Linked DNA regions of Homo sapiens. The protein of the gene in region 1 interacts with the protein of each later gene in a biochemical or structural test. Each region holds a gene or a part of one and is shown on either strand. Other genes may lie near its edges.

The links.
Region 2: the proteins of TRIM32 (region 1) and UBE2N form a complex in vitro, tested with the Homo sapiens proteins (one study listed by BioGRID).
Region 3: the proteins of TRIM32 (region 1) and IQCB1 form a complex in vitro, tested with the Homo sapiens proteins (one study listed by BioGRID).
Region 4: of the proteins of TRIM32 (region 1) and PIAS4, one has a biochemical effect on the other in vitro, tested with the Homo sapiens proteins (one study listed by BioGRID).

Annotation. Positions count from the first base shown.
Region 1 is NC_000009.12:116,699,552-116,703,731, reverse strand, and holds the end of TRIM32 (E3 ubiquitin-protein ligase TRIM32), read right to left. Parts: coding exon 4,028-4,180; 3' UTR 2,433-4,027; downstream 1-2,432. UniProt on the Homo sapiens protein: E3 ubiquitin ligase that plays a role in various biological processes including neural stem cell differentiation, innate immunity, inflammatory resonse and autophagy.
Region 2 is NC_000012.12:93,409,982-93,414,447, forward strand, and holds part of UBE2N (ubiquitin-conjugating enzyme E2 N), read right to left. Parts: intron 1,319-4,466; coding exon 1,072-1,318; intron 894-1,071; coding exon 753-893; intron 99-752; coding exon 58-98; 3' UTR 1-57. UniProt on the Homo sapiens protein: The UBE2V1-UBE2N and UBE2V2-UBE2N heterodimers catalyze the synthesis of non-canonical 'Lys-63'-linked polyubiquitin chains. This type of polyubiquitination does not lead to protein degradation by the proteasome.
Region 3 is NC_000003.12:121,827,595-121,832,060, forward strand, and holds part of IQCB1 (IQ calmodulin-binding motif-containing protein 1), read right to left. Parts: intron 1,379-4,466; 5' UTR 1,367-1,378; coding exon 1,267-1,366; intron 1,039-1,266; coding exon 876-1,038; intron 1-875. UniProt on the Homo sapiens protein: Involved in ciliogenesis. The function in an early step in cilia formation depends on its association with CEP290/NPHP6.
Region 4 is NC_000019.10:4,010,736-4,015,201, reverse strand, and holds part of PIAS4 (E3 SUMO-protein ligase PIAS4), read right to left. Parts: intron 2,280-4,466; coding exon 1,853-2,279; intron 1-1,852.

The DNA of each region.
Region 1 (4,180 bases):
TTATTATTATACTTTAAGTTTTAGGGTACATGTGCACATTGTGCAGGTTAGTTACATACGTATACATGTGCCATGCTGGTGCGCTGCACCCACTAACTCGTCATCTAGCATTAGGTATATCTCCCAATGCTACCCCTCCCCACTCCCCCCACCCCACCACAGTCCCCAGAGTGTGATATTCCCCTTCCTGTGACCATGTGATCTCATTGTTCAATTCCCACCTATGAGTGAGAATATGCGGTGTTTGGTTTTTTGTTCTTGCGATAGTTTACTGAGAATGATGGTTTCCAATTTCATCCATGTCCCTACAACATGGGAGAAAATTTTCGCAACCTACTCATCTGACAAAGGGCTAATATCCAGAATCTGCAATGAACTCAAACAAATTTACAAGAAAAAAACAAACAACCCCATCAAAAAGTGGGCGAAGGACATGAACAGACACTTCTCAAAAGAAGACATTTATGCAGCCAAAAAATACATGAAAAAATGCTCATCATCACTGGCCATCAGAGAAATGCGAATCAAAACCACTATGAGATACCATCTCACACCAGTTAGAATGGCAATCATTAAAAAGTCAGGAAACAACAGGTGCTGGAGAGGATGTGGAGAAATAGGAACACTTTTACACTGTTGGTGGGACTGTAAACTAGTTCAACCATTGTGGAAGTCAGTGTGGCGATTCCTCAGGGATCTAGAACTAGAAATACCATTTGACCCAACACTGCACTTTTAAGAGGCCATTAATTAGCACTAGATTAAAAGTACAACTACTTAAGCATTACTTGCCTTACCCAGAGGAACACTGTAAAGCTCACGCCACGTTTATTCTACTGATTGGAATAAGAGTGCCCCTCTACAGACTCAAGTCCGGAGTGTACACTGGCCCACAGTAGGTAGTTAATAAATATTGAATGAATCATTGCTCCAAAATCTTAAATTCTATGTAACCACTCAGAATGATAAAGGGAGGAGGGGCTTAACCAACCTCTAAGTCAATTGTTTGCCACTAGCTTTTAAACACCTTATAAAAGGGCTTGTCTGAGTATCCTTTTTTATCTAATCTAAGGGGGCTACACTAGGAAGACTCGGGTTACTGGAGTCCCATTAAGTCAGGTAAATACCTGAACCAATTAAATAACTGATAACATATTCTATACTAGGCACCATGTTACATGCTGGTAGCTAGATTAGTTAGCCCTCAATAAAGCTCAAATATATGGACAGATAATTGCAACACAGTGATTTATATAATAGGAATGTGAAATAGACAGTAGAAAGGAAGAGATGAACTTGATATATTTGGAGACTTGTGAGGGGAAAGAAATGCCTGAGAAAGGTTTTAATCACCAAATAGAAACCTGTTAAGCAAGAAGAAAGGAACTGTTTAGCATGGTTGGACCACTTCCCACCATCAGGTGCTCTTTTGAGCAACTAGATAAAAGAGTAACAGCCATCATTTATGGAATATTCCAGGAATGAAACCAGGTTATTTTCACATGTTATCTCATACCCTTCTAGGAGGCAGGGATCATTTTTGTTATTTTCCAGAAGAGGAAGAGTTAAATGACTTGCCCAAGGCCACATGACTAATAAGACAGAACTATAAGGTAAGCAATGCTGTAGTTCAGTGGTTTTCAGAAAAGTATTCTGTAGATTCACAAGTTTTGCAATGGTAGCACAGGAGGTAAGGTAAAGGGAGGAAACAGCATATTCTTCAGCGGCACAAACCTGCTTCAACCAGAGCAGCTGCTCTTTGATCTATTTTACATGATAGACTTCCATATAAGACTTTATTTGGACAAGGGTACTGCTGCTTTAAAAAACAAAGCAAAAAAAAAAAAAAAACCCAAAAAACTGCTGTAATTGAACAAATTAGTTTCTTGGGGCCCTAGTCTGCAATTTAGTCAACACAGCAGATAATTAAACATCGACTGTACTAAGCACAGCCTAAAATATTCACATCAAAGGGGAAAAAGGAAAAAGACTCAGATCACACTTCCATTTTGAGCCAACAGATAACTGCTTTACTTGAGGGAAAAGGCATGACTGGTTTAGATGGGTAGAGATCTAAATGCTGAATGTCACTCAGTGATGGCACCTCTTTCAAAAGCACAGACAGCTGGAGGATTCCTGGCCTCATTTACCTTCAGCCTGCCCACAATATTATATTTCTCTCTCCACTGCAAACTGTGTGCCAAAGGCCTGAGCCACTGTTATTGCCTCAGCAAGTCCCCCACTGACAGCAAAGACAGATCTCCTGCTGCTGGGTGCCCCCACAGATAAAGTGGCTCTAATAACTAGTGGAGTCATTTGTGATGCACTTTCAATTGGATCAATTTCCTCTCAATTACCCAATCTTTGAAAATCGGATGCAATTTCATAATCAGAATATGGGGCTTTCTCCAGATGAAAAGAACAAGACAAACTAGTTCAACATCATTTTAATGACCTCTTTACCTATCCTTTGGCAGCTATTATGATACAATCCAAAGAAACACTACTACCATAAAAACAATTTTGAGCAGCTCAGTTTAGCAAATTTTGTTTACATCAAAGTAAGGCAGTTGCTCTTTGGCTTGCCATCAGCCCTGCACCTAGAGTAAGATATATTACTTAGTAAACACCAAACCCTCAGGAACCTCATCACAGGTCCTCTCACCCACTTCTGATCTTAAAAACAAGACTAACTTCCTTTTTGTGAACTGTAATTATAAACATAAAACATACAGCAGAAGCTCAGAATAGGGTATTGGTGACTCTAAACCTTGGGGGATGATTCTGTACACATGTATTTGGGAGAAAGATTTGGATTATTATCTTTACATAATAGTGCTTTTGGCTGAATTTTGACCTGGGTAGATATCTACACTCTGAAAGAACACAGTGAGATAAGGAAGCAAAATGGCATAGCGCAGGTTATCCCTCTTATCATCTCCAAAATTCCGTATTTAATTAAAAGACATGAACACCAGAGATGAAGAAACAGTTCTCAATTATTTAATGCTTGATAGAGAAATGGAAAGAAATCCTGAAACCAAATAGTATGTACTGACTTGAGGAAAACACAGAATAACAAACCAATAGTTTTGCTGTTTGTTTTAGTAATGAACATGAAAATGTGTCCACCTCTCCACTTTGTTGGCCCTGGCCTATGTTGTACAATTCCTTAGACACAGGCCAGAAGAGAGAGGTAGTATGAAAAATGATGAGCCCTAGAGACTATCCAAATTTGCTGACTATATCAGCATTTGTTTGCTTATTCCCAGCTTCCTATGCTTTGGCATAATTCCAACCCATATATGCTTCTTTAAAAGGCAAGCAATTTCCAGGCTGAAGTCATCAATACCAACCAACTAGGGTCAATCCATTCTGTCACATCTGCAATTCTCAATCCAAGATGGCACAGATCCTCCAGGCGAGAGGTACTGCTTCCTAAAGGGCTTGTGTATCCCCTTTGGTAGCACTAAATGAATGACTTTCATACTGGTAAAGACGATCAGACTGAGACATAATGTTACGGGAATATGATGTCTTAAATGTCACTGAAAGGTGGAGCAGATCCCACTGAAGCATGCACAGTGAATCCAATCAGAGTTCAAGAGAAAGTGTCACAGATGAAGCACATTATAGTAGGAAGGAAACAATGGATCAAGGGCATCAAAGCCAAATGGGAAAAAATCAAGGATTTAATACAAGGGCAAATTTCAAACATGGCACAAAGGGCTAAAGTGGCTCTCTCTACTAAAGCCTTGGAAGTGCCTAATTGCTAATCAAACTTCAGCTAACACCATCGTGTGTCCTATTTGGGCAGTGCATCTTTTAAAGCTCTAAATTTAGGTGGGAAGCGGGGAGGGGGACATAACAAATAAAAACATTAAAAGATGGAGCTTCTGAAGTTCTAGAACTACCCAGCTGGAATCAGGACATAGGCTGAGTCTATTCTGCATGTGCCACTAACAACCAAGAACTAAGGGAAGGGAAGTTGGCTTGGGAGCAGAAGAAACTGATAATTTCTCATCCCCTATGGGGTGGAATATCTTCTCAGATGGTAGCTGTAGATCTTGATGCAATGATCCCAACAGTCCAAGACCAGCAGCTGCCCCTTAGGAGTTAGGGCTATGCCCACCGGACAGGTAAGTCCCTCTCGAATAAGGACACTATAGCCCCCACCCTT
Region 2 (4,466 bases), on another chromosome or scaffold:
GAGGAGGAAGTCTTGGCAGAACAGGAGAAGTGATGCACACTTGATGATCGTATCAATTTAAATATTATTCATGGCATATAGCCTAGTCCATGCTCTAGCTGTAGACAGAAACAAACATACGATTATTATTTTACTTAGTTCAATATGTTACTTTCCAAACTATAAATGGCAAACAACCACTATTAATTATGGAAATGTCATGCTGTAATCTGTTAAATTCACGCCTTTTTCTATAAATTGGATCAGGGCTGAAAGATTTTGTAAATGTCCAATTACCAAAACACTACAATAAAATTAAGAAGTTCTAGAAAATTCAAGAGGATGAATCAAGTTGTCCATTTCTAGATACACAATTCTCCCCACTAATTTTCTTAAAATCTGTAGCAGAAGCTTCTTGACTCCAAATTCCGTAGCCATAAACAGCTGAATACTTTAATCAAATGGGTTACAAAAACAGTTCAAGTTTTCCAGTATTCTTTACATATAACTAGATAAATGGTATGCACTCAGTATTTGTTAAACCAGGTGTAGTTACAAGAGACTCCAAGATCTTTCAATTACAGGTTGTCTTTATATTTGGGGGGTCCCATAGCAAGCCATTTTGTTAAGACGTATTTACATACTATAAGCAGGATCTCACTTATTATACTTTTTTCTATTTCTTTTCCTTGCCAAGAGCTTTAGAAAAGTTTAAGTGGTAATACAAATTTGTAAAAGTGGAAGTGGTGTGAAGGAGAATGAATATTAGATACCTGTTTCTATGGCTTGGGCTTCGTTGGTCTTCCACTGCTCCGCTACATCATTTGCTAATGGATCATCTGGATTGGGAGCACTTAACAAGGCCTGGATCGATAGCAGAACTGTGCGGATCTGCAGTGCTGGGGACCACTTATCTATGAAGGCAACAGGCCCAGTATGATAAAGCATGAAAAAAACAGGCCCAGAACTGCTTCACTTCCCTCCCACAGACCTCTCTGATCTTTGTATAATGTTTACATTCTAAACATGGAATGCTTAAGAGAAAAAGGAGAAAGCTTAATAATAGCATATGCTGATAAAGATAACACTTACCTTTCAAAATATCTAAACATATTCTTCCCAACTTGTCTACATTAGGATGATAAATTTTGGTCATGAAACGTACTTTAGGGGCTGCCATTGGGTATTCTTCTGGAAGGAATAGTTCAAGTTTAAAAGTCCCTCCCTCAAAGGGGGAATCCTGAGGGCCAGCAATGACCACATGAAAATAACGGGCGTTGCTCTCATCTGGTTCGGCTTTGATGCCAGGAACTGGTTCTGCCAGCAAACGCTGGGTTTCCTATGACAGAAAAACAAACACATTTGTGAAACAAATGTCATTTTGCTAGACACCAAAAGTAAAATTAGAAAGTTCATCTCTTAGAACTACGCATAATAGAACAGCTCCAATCTCCCAACAGATTTAGCTTATAAAATGCAAAATTCAAAAAAATACCATTTAAATAATTACAACCAGCTGAATGAAACTGCAAGCGAATACTAATGATGTTATCATACATTTTGGCTACAAATGTCTACAAATATGTTAATAAAATTAGCTTAATAAAACTGATTTTTTACTCAAGTAAAATAAAGTAACATTAGGATTACATAAGTAAGGCAACTTGCTCTAAACTCAACCAAAACCAAGCTATTTAAAAAGTAAAATTAGCTTTTTTGGTGGTTTTTTTTGGCTTGTTTGTTTGTTTTTGAGACAAGATCTCACTTTGTCACTCACGCTGGAGTGCAGTGGCAAGATCTTGGCTCACTGCAGCCTCGACCTCCCTGGGCCCAGGTGATCCTCCCAACTCGGCCTCCTGAGTAGCTGGGATTACAGGTGTGCGCCACCACACCTAGCTAATTTTTGTATTTTTAGTAGAGACGGTATCACCCTGTTGGCCAGGCTGGTCTTGAACTCCTGGCCTCAAGTGATTTGCTCGCCTTGGCTTCCCAAAGTGCTGAGATTACAGGTATGGGCCAACACACTCGGCCAAAAATTAGTTTTTAAACCCACTGAAAACCTCCCCTCTGAAAAATGTAACGGACTAAAGAAAGGAGATAAGAAGAGGCCCAGGTACCTGAACAGGACTAAAGAAATATATTTAACAATGCTGATTACTCTAAAATTGACAATTAACTTCAGAGGAACCCTTAATACTCCCAACAATCATACCATTAGTTCTCTTTTTCATCATTCTCCCTCTCCCCTAAATAATTGTATTATTATTATTTCTCTTCTCTCTTCAAACCTCCAGCATCTCCATCCCCATCCTCACTTGTGGCTGATGTCCTGCTTCCTATTTCATGACAAGTTAGATACTTCCATCAGTTCCCACTGTAGCATTTGGACATTTCCCTGCATCTGCACCCATACACTCTGGTTTTTCTCCTGTATAGATGAAATGTCACGTACTCTTGGCTAGGGCCAATCGGTCTTGAGCACTAGATCTTACTGATCTCTGAAATGTTTGTTCTTCGGTACCATAAAGAAATAGCACTTGAACATAAATTTAATTTATTTAGTAAAGCCATTTTTACTTCCTGCAGAAAGGGTACACTCGCCAGGAGTTTTGCCACAAGAGTATACTGAACAAAGGAGACAGGGTCATTTATAACCTGACGCGTCCACCCTACTGCTGTGTCCGGTTTCCACTGGCTGGAACGGGATCTCACATTCTGTATTTGTCCTGACTGGCTAGCAACTTAGAACTTTTTAAAAGAGGTAAAGGTAGAGGGGAACAAAGGAAGGAGGAAGTAACTTGTGGAATGCTGAGAAAGGTAAAAACACTTTTAAATAAGGAAGAGGAACAGGCTATGACCTAATGCTTGCTTGGACCAGTATAAGCATGCCAGGGCAAATATTTAGGCTAAATTGTGGGAGCTAAGAACATAAAGTATATTGATTTCTTTATTATGGCTAGCAAATATTTAAGAATGTTTGCACAGGTCTTCGAATAAATTTTGCTTCTAAGAGAAGTTACTATTTATTCCTAATTAGATGGGGAGGAAAGTCTTTGAAGAGGAACCTCTACTTTGCTTGTCTCCAATTTCTCTCCTCCTCTTCTGTCTTGAACATACCCTCCAATCAAGCTGTAGTTATCGCTAACTTGTTTGTTAAGGTCACCAATGATTTCCACAAGGTTAAATCAAATGTCCAGTGCTTAATCTTTATCTTACCTAAATGCGACATCTTATCCAGCTGGTCTCCTTCCTCTTTGCAAAGCTTTATCTAACTTCCTATAAACATTCTCATGGCTCTCTTCCTCCTTGTCTGGCAGCAGCTTCCTTTAGTTTCCTTGTTGGTTTCTTCTATCTCCCAACATCGCAACACTGAAATGCACTGGGGCTCTATTCTAGGGCTTCCTCTCTGTTTATACATTTCCACAGTGATCTCATGTAATGCAATGAATTTAAATACTAAACACACTCTATAAGCTGAAGCCTCCCCTAATTCATATCTAGCCCAGACCTCTCCCCTCATCGTGCCTCTTGCCTCTATAACTACCTGCTTGATATACACTCTTGAATGTCTAATAAGCATCCCAAACTTAACATGACCTCCCTATCCCCAACCTTTGCTCCTCCCATAAAGTCTTCCCCACATCAGTTACTGGCAAACCCATCTTTCCAAATGATCCACCTTTTCCTTCATATGCCACACACATCTAGCCTGATTGGCAAATTGGTTTTTTTTATACTTCAAATTCTACTCATGATTGGACTGTTTCTCACCATTCCACTGCTACACCTCTGATCCAAGCAACCATCAGCTCTGACCTGGCATACTACAACAGCCTCCTAACCTGTTCTTCCTGCTTCTGACCTCACTACCTCCCTCGCAGGTCTATTATCCACAGACCCTTTAAAAGTCATAGTCCTGAGCCGGGTGCGGTGGCTCACGCCTGTAATCCCAGCACTTTGGGAGGCCGAGGCGGGTGGATCACCTCAGGTCAGGAGTTCGAGACCAGCCTGATCAACATGGAGAAATCCCATCTCTACTAAAAATACAAAATCAGCCGGGCATGGTGGCACGTGCCTGTAATCCCAGCTACTCGGGAGGCTGAGGCAGGAGAATCATTTGAAGCCAGGAGGCGGAGGTTGCAGTGAGCTGAGATCGTGCCATTGCACTCCAGCCTGGGTGACAGGGCGAGACTCCATCTCAAAAAAAGTCTGGGCATGGTGGCTCACACCTGTAATCCCAGCATTTTGGGAGGCCGAGGCGGGTGGATCGGCTCAGGTCAGGAGTTCGAGACCAGCCTGATCAACATGGAGAAATCCCACCTCTACTAAAAATATAAAATTAGCTAGGCATGGTGGCGCATGCCTGTAATCCCAGCTACTTGGGAGGCTGAGGCAGGAGAATCGCTTGAACCCCGGAGGTGGAGGTTGCGGTGAGCCCCGATCATGCCATTGCTCTCCAGCCTAGGCAAAAGAGCGAAGCTCCGTCT
Region 3 (4,466 bases), on another chromosome or scaffold:
TCAATCTTGAAAATTAAAGTATGAAAAAGAATATCACATATATTTTTCAACTGTTCTTTGTAACTGTGTGCTTTAAATTTGGCCTTTACCAAGTAACACAGTAGGATTAAGCAGCTTAGAAATCTAGCATCCAAGACAAACCCTTTCAGTGGGAATAGCTTATTAAATTCAAATGGCTTATTTAGGAAAAACAAAAAAAGAAGGCTAGGATCCAGTTAGTAAATACACACTTTCACTTATTAATCAGGAAGTAGCTTAGGCACTAAGAACATCTGGTTTATTTTACTACCTCCTTTAAAAAATGTTTATTTCTCTTCTATTAATTTCTAGCATGGCAGTAGATCAGTAAATTCTACTTCTAAATTTTATTGACAGTATTTGGGTTGCTTAATGAAATACACAGTTGATAGCTACATTGATATAGTGAAATAAAATGTTTCTTTATCAGTTCTCCTATAGTACTTGCTTGCATACTTTCATTTTAGCACTGATTTCATTCTGCTTTGTATCATATACTTACATGACTGTCACCCAATCTCTATTTTAAGTTTCTCAGGTACAGAGCCAGTGCCTTAATTTCTTCACTTCTTTAAAAATTCCTTAATCAATAAAAAGTATATTAGGCACTTGGAATTCAGTGGTGAGAAAAAAAATGATCACCATCTTCATTAAGCTTGTGGAGGAAAATTTTAGACAGTCAAATAATCTGAAGTAAAATTATGAATAATAACATATAATATGAAGGAAAAGTACAACCAAAACCTACAACAGGAGGTTGCCAATGCTTGTTAGGCAGATAAATAAAAAGCAAATGTTGAAAATCAGAATCAACTACTACATCCCTCAAGAACAGCTGACTTACTGCTTTATTTTACCTTAATATCTGTGTAAGCTGGGAAATTGTAGTCCAACCACCCTGGATTCGAGAATAATCTTGACTGAGGACCAAGAGGCAATATTGAATGAGATCATAACAATATATATCTTGTTTGATTTTCTTCAACTCTGAGCTTCCTAAAGGTGTGATGTTTATTATTTCTAAGGCAAAAGGAAATAAGATATATTTATTTTTGCTTAATACATCCAGGAGCTATTTGTATTTTTATATGTTGAATAATCACTAAAAATATATTAGAAGGAAAAATTACTGTTCTATTATAGTGTTAAGACCTCTCTGAACAAATTTAAAAGAAATGTTAAAATTGTACCAACGATGGAACCATTTTTCACTTAAAATGCTATCTAATCACAAAAAGATTTTCTTACCTTTTAACTTCAACAGTATAACAGGGACATTCTGCTCAGGGCTTTTTGCAACTTCAGCAGCTATAGATAAGATCCTTGGGTCTGTACCTGTTGGCTTCATTTCTCTTATTACCTATATTTTAACAGAATCAGAGAATAAAGGTCAAAAAGCCAGGAAATGTTCACTACCTAAATAATGTTTGAAATATAATTTCAATATAAATAAAAACAGCTTTTCTTGCCTTGTTTGAGAGGCAGAATGTAGATTTTTTCATTTCTTCCTTATAGAAAACTGGTTTTTCTAACCAGTGTAAAAGAGCTCAAGATTCCTATACCTCACATGTAACAGCTATAGCAGGTATTGTTTATTGTGCACTCACTAAGAGTCAGGAACTGTGATAGGAGCTTCACATTCTCTCTCTAATCTGCACAATAATTCTAGGATAGGAATTAACTTCCTTTAATCACACAAGAAGAACTGCAAAAAAGAGCTAACATGACAGGCCTAAGACTACTATACTTTCAAAGGTGTGCTTACAAGGTTGGCCTTTGACTGGCATCTAGAACTTAGATTTCAGGAGGGTTTCTGCCATTCTCTGGTAAGAGTGGCTCCCTGTGCCTAAAACTGTTTATGAAAAACAATGTGGTTCATGCTGAATACCCGCCTTCCTTCCAGGAGTCTTAGAATTCTGGTACATGCCAGTCGAGAGTACCTATACAGAGGGTGCCTATGTGGCCATCCTCCAATAAAAATTCTGATCACTGAGTGTCTAGTTGAGCTTCCTTGGTAGACAACACTTCAAACATGTTGTCATAGCTGGTTGCTGGAGGAATTAAGCATATCCTACGTAACTCCACTGGGAGAGAACTCAGAAGTTTGTACCTGATTTCCCCCAATATGCTTTTTCCCTTTGCTGATTTTGCTTTATTTCCCTTCACTGTAATAAATCATAGCTGTAAGTACACTATATTCTGAGTCCTGTGAGCCCTCCTAGTGAAGCACTGACCTTCAACACACTAATGCTCAGAAATGTTACATAAATATAAGATAATCAAAGATTGCTTCTAAATAGTATAGTGAATAAGGCCAGGGGCAGTGGCTCACACCTATAATCCCAGCACTTTGGGAGGCCAAGGTGGGTGAATCACTTGCGGTCAGGAGTTCAAGACCAGCCTGGCCAACATGGTGAAACCCCATTTCTACTAAGAATACAAAAAATCAGCTGGGCATGGTGGCGCGTGCCTGTAATCCCAGTTACTCAGGAGGCTGAGGCAGAATAGCTTGAACCTAGGAGGTGGAGGTTGAGTGACCTGAGATCACATCACTGCACTCCAGCCTGAGTGACAGAGCTAGACTCTGTCTCAAAATAATAATAATAATAATTAATAAATAAGTAAATAGTATATTGAATAAAATCAATTCTCCTAACATTAAAAAACAAGGTCCACATCCTAATTTGTTGCTAAAACTTTCTCTATGTAAAAAAAGTTTAAGGCTGAAGAATCGCTTGAGAATTGGTGTTCAAGACTAGCCTGGTCAACAAAGCAAGACCCTGTCTCTAAAAAAAAAAAGTTTTAAAGCATTTGAAGCTCAAAGATATCCTTATATAATAAAAGCGTATTTCCTTATTTATAGTAAAGCTAACATGTATCAACTGTTTAATATAAGCTAAGCACTATGTTAATATACTATACACTGTCTTGTGTAATCCTCACAACAGGGCTATGAAGTAGATAGAGCGTGTGATCATTTCCATACATACATATATACATATACATATATATGTTTTTGTCCACAGTTTCTGGCTCATAACTCCCATAGCCTTTGTTACAGTCTTGTTATGTTAGGGTGCTTTAGGCCTCAGAAAACAGAATCTATTTCTGACTTCCTCCTCTCCTCCTTTCACCTGCTCCTTCTCTCCAAAGCAGAACTCTAATCATCCCTGCCTTTCTCTGACCTATCTTGTCTAGCTGTAGGTCATAAGACCCCTGTTTCAGAATGGGTCTTGCCCTATATCCTGGAAGGAATGCTGAACAGAGAAGCCAAGAAGAATCTGAGCAGACAGGCCTTGCTGGGTTTCCCCACTCAGTCTGTTAGTATCAGATCATATCTTTTTTGTCCAATCACATTTCCAAAATGATTGTCCATGCTTCAGTCATGCCTATCCATTGAAATCTCCATAAAAGGCTCAAGAGGATGGGGTACAAAGAGCTACTGGATAGCTGAACATGTGGAAGTTCCTGGAGGAATTTCCTGGATATCACAGGCAGGGAGGACATGGAAGCTCTGTGCCCCTTCCCATACTTCACAGTATGCATCTCTTCATTTGTATCCTAGTATTTTTTTTTGGAGACAGGATCTCACTCCTGTTGCCCAGGCTGGAGGACAATGGTACAATTATGGCTCACTGCAGCCTAGACTTCTCAGGTTCAGGTGATTCTCCCACCTCAGCCTCCCAAGTAGCTGGGACTACACTTGCAAGCCATGACGCTCGGCTAATTTTTTGTATTTTTAGTAGAGACAGGGTTTCTCCATGTTGCCCAGGGTCTCTGTAATATCTTTATAATAAACTGGAAAACATGTTTCCCTCAGTTTTGTTAGCTCCTCTAGCAAATTAATACACCCCAAGGTGTGTATTAATAGGATTCCTCATGTGTAGCTGGTCAGTCAGAAGCACAGGTAAAACAACTTAGGGCTTGGATTGGCATCAGAAATGGGGGTCCCTCTTGCAGGACTAAGCCCTAAACCTAAGGGATCTGACCCTATCTCCAAGTAGACAGTGTCAGAATTGAATTAGATGATACCCAGCTGGTGTCCGCTGCAGAATTGATTGCTTGCTTGTTGGTGGAAGAAAACTCCACACATTTGGTCACAGAAGTCTTTTGTGTTGATTGTCATGATGTGAGAGCAAAAACTGTTTTTCCATTCATATATCTCTTATTAGGTACAATATAAATCATTAAAAGACAGGTTTGCTGAAAATACCTTAAAGAAAGCCCAGTGCAACTCCCGGCACATAGTAGTCACAAAACTTTCAAAGAGAGTGCATATAGTTATCTCATTCTCTCCAAATGGCTGCATTATGCTACATTTCCTTTTAAGAATGCAGCAAAATATATTTAAACATCACCTCTACTGGAGGTCACTCAAGCTGTATGCTATTACAAGCAACACTGCAATGAATATACACATGATCCTTTACATTTTTGCCAATCTGTTA
Region 4 (4,466 bases), on another chromosome or scaffold:
CAGCCAGCTCTGCCCAAGAACCTGGCAGGGGGAACAGCTTCCCTCATGAGAGAGCAAAGGCTGGGAAAGTCAGTCCGATGGAACTCAGGCCAAGACCCTGAGTCCCCCAGGACAGGTGCCACTGGGCCAACCTGCTCCCCAGGAGGCTGCTGCTAGACACCTCCTGCAAGAGAAAAAAGGTGGAGGCGGAGCCTCACTTGGAAGGCGGAGCCTCAGGCTGGAGGGAGGAGCCTCGGCTGCCGCAGGAACCACCGACAGCACCTTCCTCCCTCCTCCACTTCCTCCATCCTCACCTGGAAGCACAGCCCCTCCAGCCTAACCTCACTAAGTCCCAGGGCTGCAGATGGGAGGGGAAAAGCAGCCAGTTCCCCTTCCCCCTACCCCCATCAACGCTGCCTCCCTGGGCAGGGGAGCGGGGGCCAGCTGGCACCCAATGGACTGAAGCGTGCCAGAGAAGGGCCCTCAGGCCACAGCAGGGGCCAGGCAGGTTGCTGGGTCAGCAGGGTGGGAGGGGGCATGCACAGGGTTCTGAACCTCGTGGCCTTGGTCCTGTTCCCTGCTGCGTGCCCACGCCTGGTGCCCATCACGCACCCACCCAGCAGGCGCTCCGATGTTTACTGTGCGAAGGAAAGAGTGGGGGCAGGGGAGGGGAGGCAGGAAGAAGAGACGGAGAGACCTCCAGGCACACAGAGGACTTGGTGAAATCTGAGCGCCTCAAGGCACAGGTCCGCAAAGGCCCAGGACGTTCCGCTCCCTATCTGGGAGTCCCAGAGGCTGCACACTCTCTCTGCCCTGGGGGCTGGGGCTGCGGAGGCCTCCCTGGCCCTGAGCTCAGGGCTATGGCTGAGGCAGAGACTGGGCTCAATGCCCACCTGCAGCCTGAATGGCCACGGCTGCTGGGGAGGCACCAGGGGCCTGTCCACACTGCTGTGGGCTATGAGGTCCTGACACACAGTTCCTGCTCAGTCAGTGCTTGCAGACAAAGACACGAGAGAGAGAAGCGTGGAGCCCAGCACCTCTCCTCCGCCTGGGATCGCCCTGAACCCCCAGCACGCCCGGTGCACACAGCCTGGCAGTGACCTGAGCCCACTGACCAAGGACACTCCTGCAGGCTGCCAGCGAGGAACCAGAGCCCGGGGGAAGGATGCCACTGGCCAGCCCCCTTTCCAAGGGGAATAAGCAGGGAAACCAGGCTCCCAGGTGGCCCTGGTCACCCCTGGCCCTGGCAGTCACAGCCTGGTGTGGTCCCTGCATGCGCCACAGAGTCTGTGTGAGCAACGGACTCTGTGGGGGAGATGGCGAGGCGTGTCCGAGGTTGGGTTATAAAAAGGGCTCCAGCTCCCAGCTTGGAGGTGCACACTCGCTACCCTAGGGTGAGGGAGCCACCAGGCTGAGGACGCCCAGGCAATCCGTGCAGGAGTCCGCACCATGAGGACCTGGGGACTGTGGCCAAGAGCTGGCGAGGAGCTGAGGCCTGCCAGCCACCACACAAGGATGTGCCTGCTCCAGCCCTGGTCGAGCCTCCAGATGAGGTGGCTCCAGCCTGACTGAGCCTCATGAGAGCCCCCAAGCCCCAATGCCCCGCAACACAGCTCACAGGTTCCTGAGAGCTAACAGACGCCCCCTGCTTCCAGTGGCTCCATTTCGGGGTAACTTGTAACACAGCAAGGGGTGACCAATATCAAAGATGGTCCCTTTGCTTCCGAGGAAGGACACCCCTGGCCACTGTGGCTCCCCGCCCTGGCTGCGCCACAGAGAACATCACTCGAAGTCGGCTGTGTGGCTGGGCTGGGCTGGGCGACGGGGCCTAGGTGAAGCCTCCAGTCGCAGCCTCCCCAGGGTGACCACTCACCTAATTCGGTGGGCTTCAGCAGCTCATCCAGCATATTAAAGAACGGCAGCTTCACCAGGCGGACTTCTGGCTTGAGGGTCTTGGCGGGCAACCGTCCCAGTCCGTTTAAGTACTTTCCGTAGAGCACGGGGTAGTCAATATTGGGGCCTGCCAGCGGAGTCCTGGGCACAGCGCCGGCCCGGTCGTAGGTGGAGTGCATGGTCAGGGGGTCCAGGGGCCGGTGCGGCTGTGGGGCAGGCTCCGAGTTCTTCTTGGCGTAGCGGGTCTCGTACAGCTCCTTGATCTTCTTGAACAGCTCAGGGCTACAGTCAAACTGCACCAGCTGGAGGGCCCTGGTGACGAGCTCGTGCTTCAGTCCACTCTTACTCCGGCCCACGAAACCCAGGAGCATCTGAAGGTCGGAGACTCGAAAACTCATCACCATGTTCTGAGGAGGAGCAAGCACACACACACTCAGAGGACACAGCTGCGAGGCAGGGGACTCCATGGAGGCCAGGCCCCGATGTGGGGGCCGTGAAAGACACCCACTCGCCAGGAAGCGCCAGCCTTGGCTGGGGCTGGTGGAGTGCCCTGCCCCTACGGTGCCCCCTCCCAGCAAAGCCCTGCCCCCTCCCTCCTCCTCATCAAACTTTCCCCAGCATCGCCAACGCAGCAAAAGCGCCTCTGACTAGGCCCCCCCTTCTATTTTAGGTTCTCTTTCCCTGTCTTCAGCCTGAAAGCATCCCCAGGGCAGGAACTGACAATTGTGCTTTACTTGTAAACAGCCTCTGCCAGTGCCTTACCGGCAAACACCAAATGCCTCTCTGACCCTCAGTCTCTACGTCGGGAGGATAATGACATAAAGCACTGGCTGGGCGGGCGCTCAACCCATGTCAGCCACAGATATGTTTTCCCTTCGGTCTCGCCAACGGTAGCCACAGTTTACTTAGTACTAATCACCTGCCGGGAACCAAGCCGGTCATGTGATTATATATTTAACTCTGATCCTTAAAACACCCCTGCTAGGCTGGTGTGTGAGCTCTGTCACAAATGAGGAACTGTCGGCTCAGAGGTGGCAGCGCCAAGATTCGAACCCAGGCCTGGCTCTGAAGCCAGGGGCGGTTCTTGCTGCCACACTACCCTCTGGATGTCAACACAGGGCTGGGCCTGTGGGGGCCTCCGAAACATCTGCTGATCATCCCAGGCAGGGTTTCTCCTCCTTGGCCCTGTGGACACTGGGGCCATCCTGGGCTCTGTGTGGTGCTAAATACCCACAGCTCACGACAACCAAACACACCTCCACACCCCACACACCTCCACACCCCACACACCTCCACACCCCACACACCTCCACACCCCACACACCTCCACACCCCACACACCTCCACACCCCACACACCTCCACACCCCACACACCTCCACACCCCACACACCTCCACACCCCACACACCTCCACACCCCACACACCTCCACACCCCCCACACCTCCACACCCCACAGCTCCACACCAAACACACCTCCACACCCCACACACCTCCACACCCCACACACCTCCACACCCCACACACCTCCACACCCCACACACCTCCACACCCCACACACCTCCACACCCCACACACCTCCACACCCCACACACCTCCACACCCCACACACCTCCACACCCCACACACCTCCACACCCCACACACCTCCACACCCCCCACACCTCCACACCAAACACACCTCCACACCAAACACACCTCCACACGTTGCCCTGAGTCCCTGGGGGACCGGTCCAAGGGGAAGATAGCAGCCACAGGGGCTGTTGCAGGACCTGGGTCAAAGCGACAAATGAGGCTTGGCAGGACCTGGCCCTCATCGCCTGGCCGGGCCTCTCCAGCGAAATAAAAACCAAACAGCAGAGCCCAGCTGACCCTGGTGTTTGAGGTGGGGTAGACTGGCAGTGGCCTGACCTCCATGAGGGGTAGGACCCTGAAGGGGAAGGAAGGCTCCTCAACAGGCTGCAGAAGCCAGGTGTCCTCGAGGGATGGGCTGGCAGGGTTTCAGGGCCACCCACCCTTAGCCCTGAAGCTGGCCTGGGATGAATGAGATGTGGTGGGAAACAGTAGCTTCCAGGAGGAATGGGGAGAAAGCTCAAGCGTCAAGGGTGTTAAGGAAAGCTGGCGGGTACCCGAAGAAACCAATAAACCATTCAAACTCCACTCGAAAGACCCTGAGGGTCGAAGCCAGAGGCAGTCCCAGTGGGGTATGTAAACTGCAGCCTCCGTGCCAGGAGGCGCTGAGGTTTCCGGCTCCTGGCTGCCCCAGGGTGAGACCAGGAGCCTAGCCGCACATTTCAGCACCAAAGCTGCAGCAGCCGGGGCCCACTGTCGGGTCCTCATCTGTCAGCTCTGATTTCTTCCAGCTGTATCGGGCCAGGGTCCTGTTGGAGACGGAGAGGCTGTCCAGGCTCAAAATGACAGGGACACACGTGCAGGCGGCCCAGCCCTGCCCAAAGAGCCTCGGGAGAAGCCTCTTCCCATATCAGGGCTGCGGGGCCCCGTGACTGTAAAGAATCGGGATGCCAGCGTCTTGCTCCCTACCAGGCACCAGCAAGGCCTGTGTCGCTAATTTCACAATGAGGACACCCATCGTGTA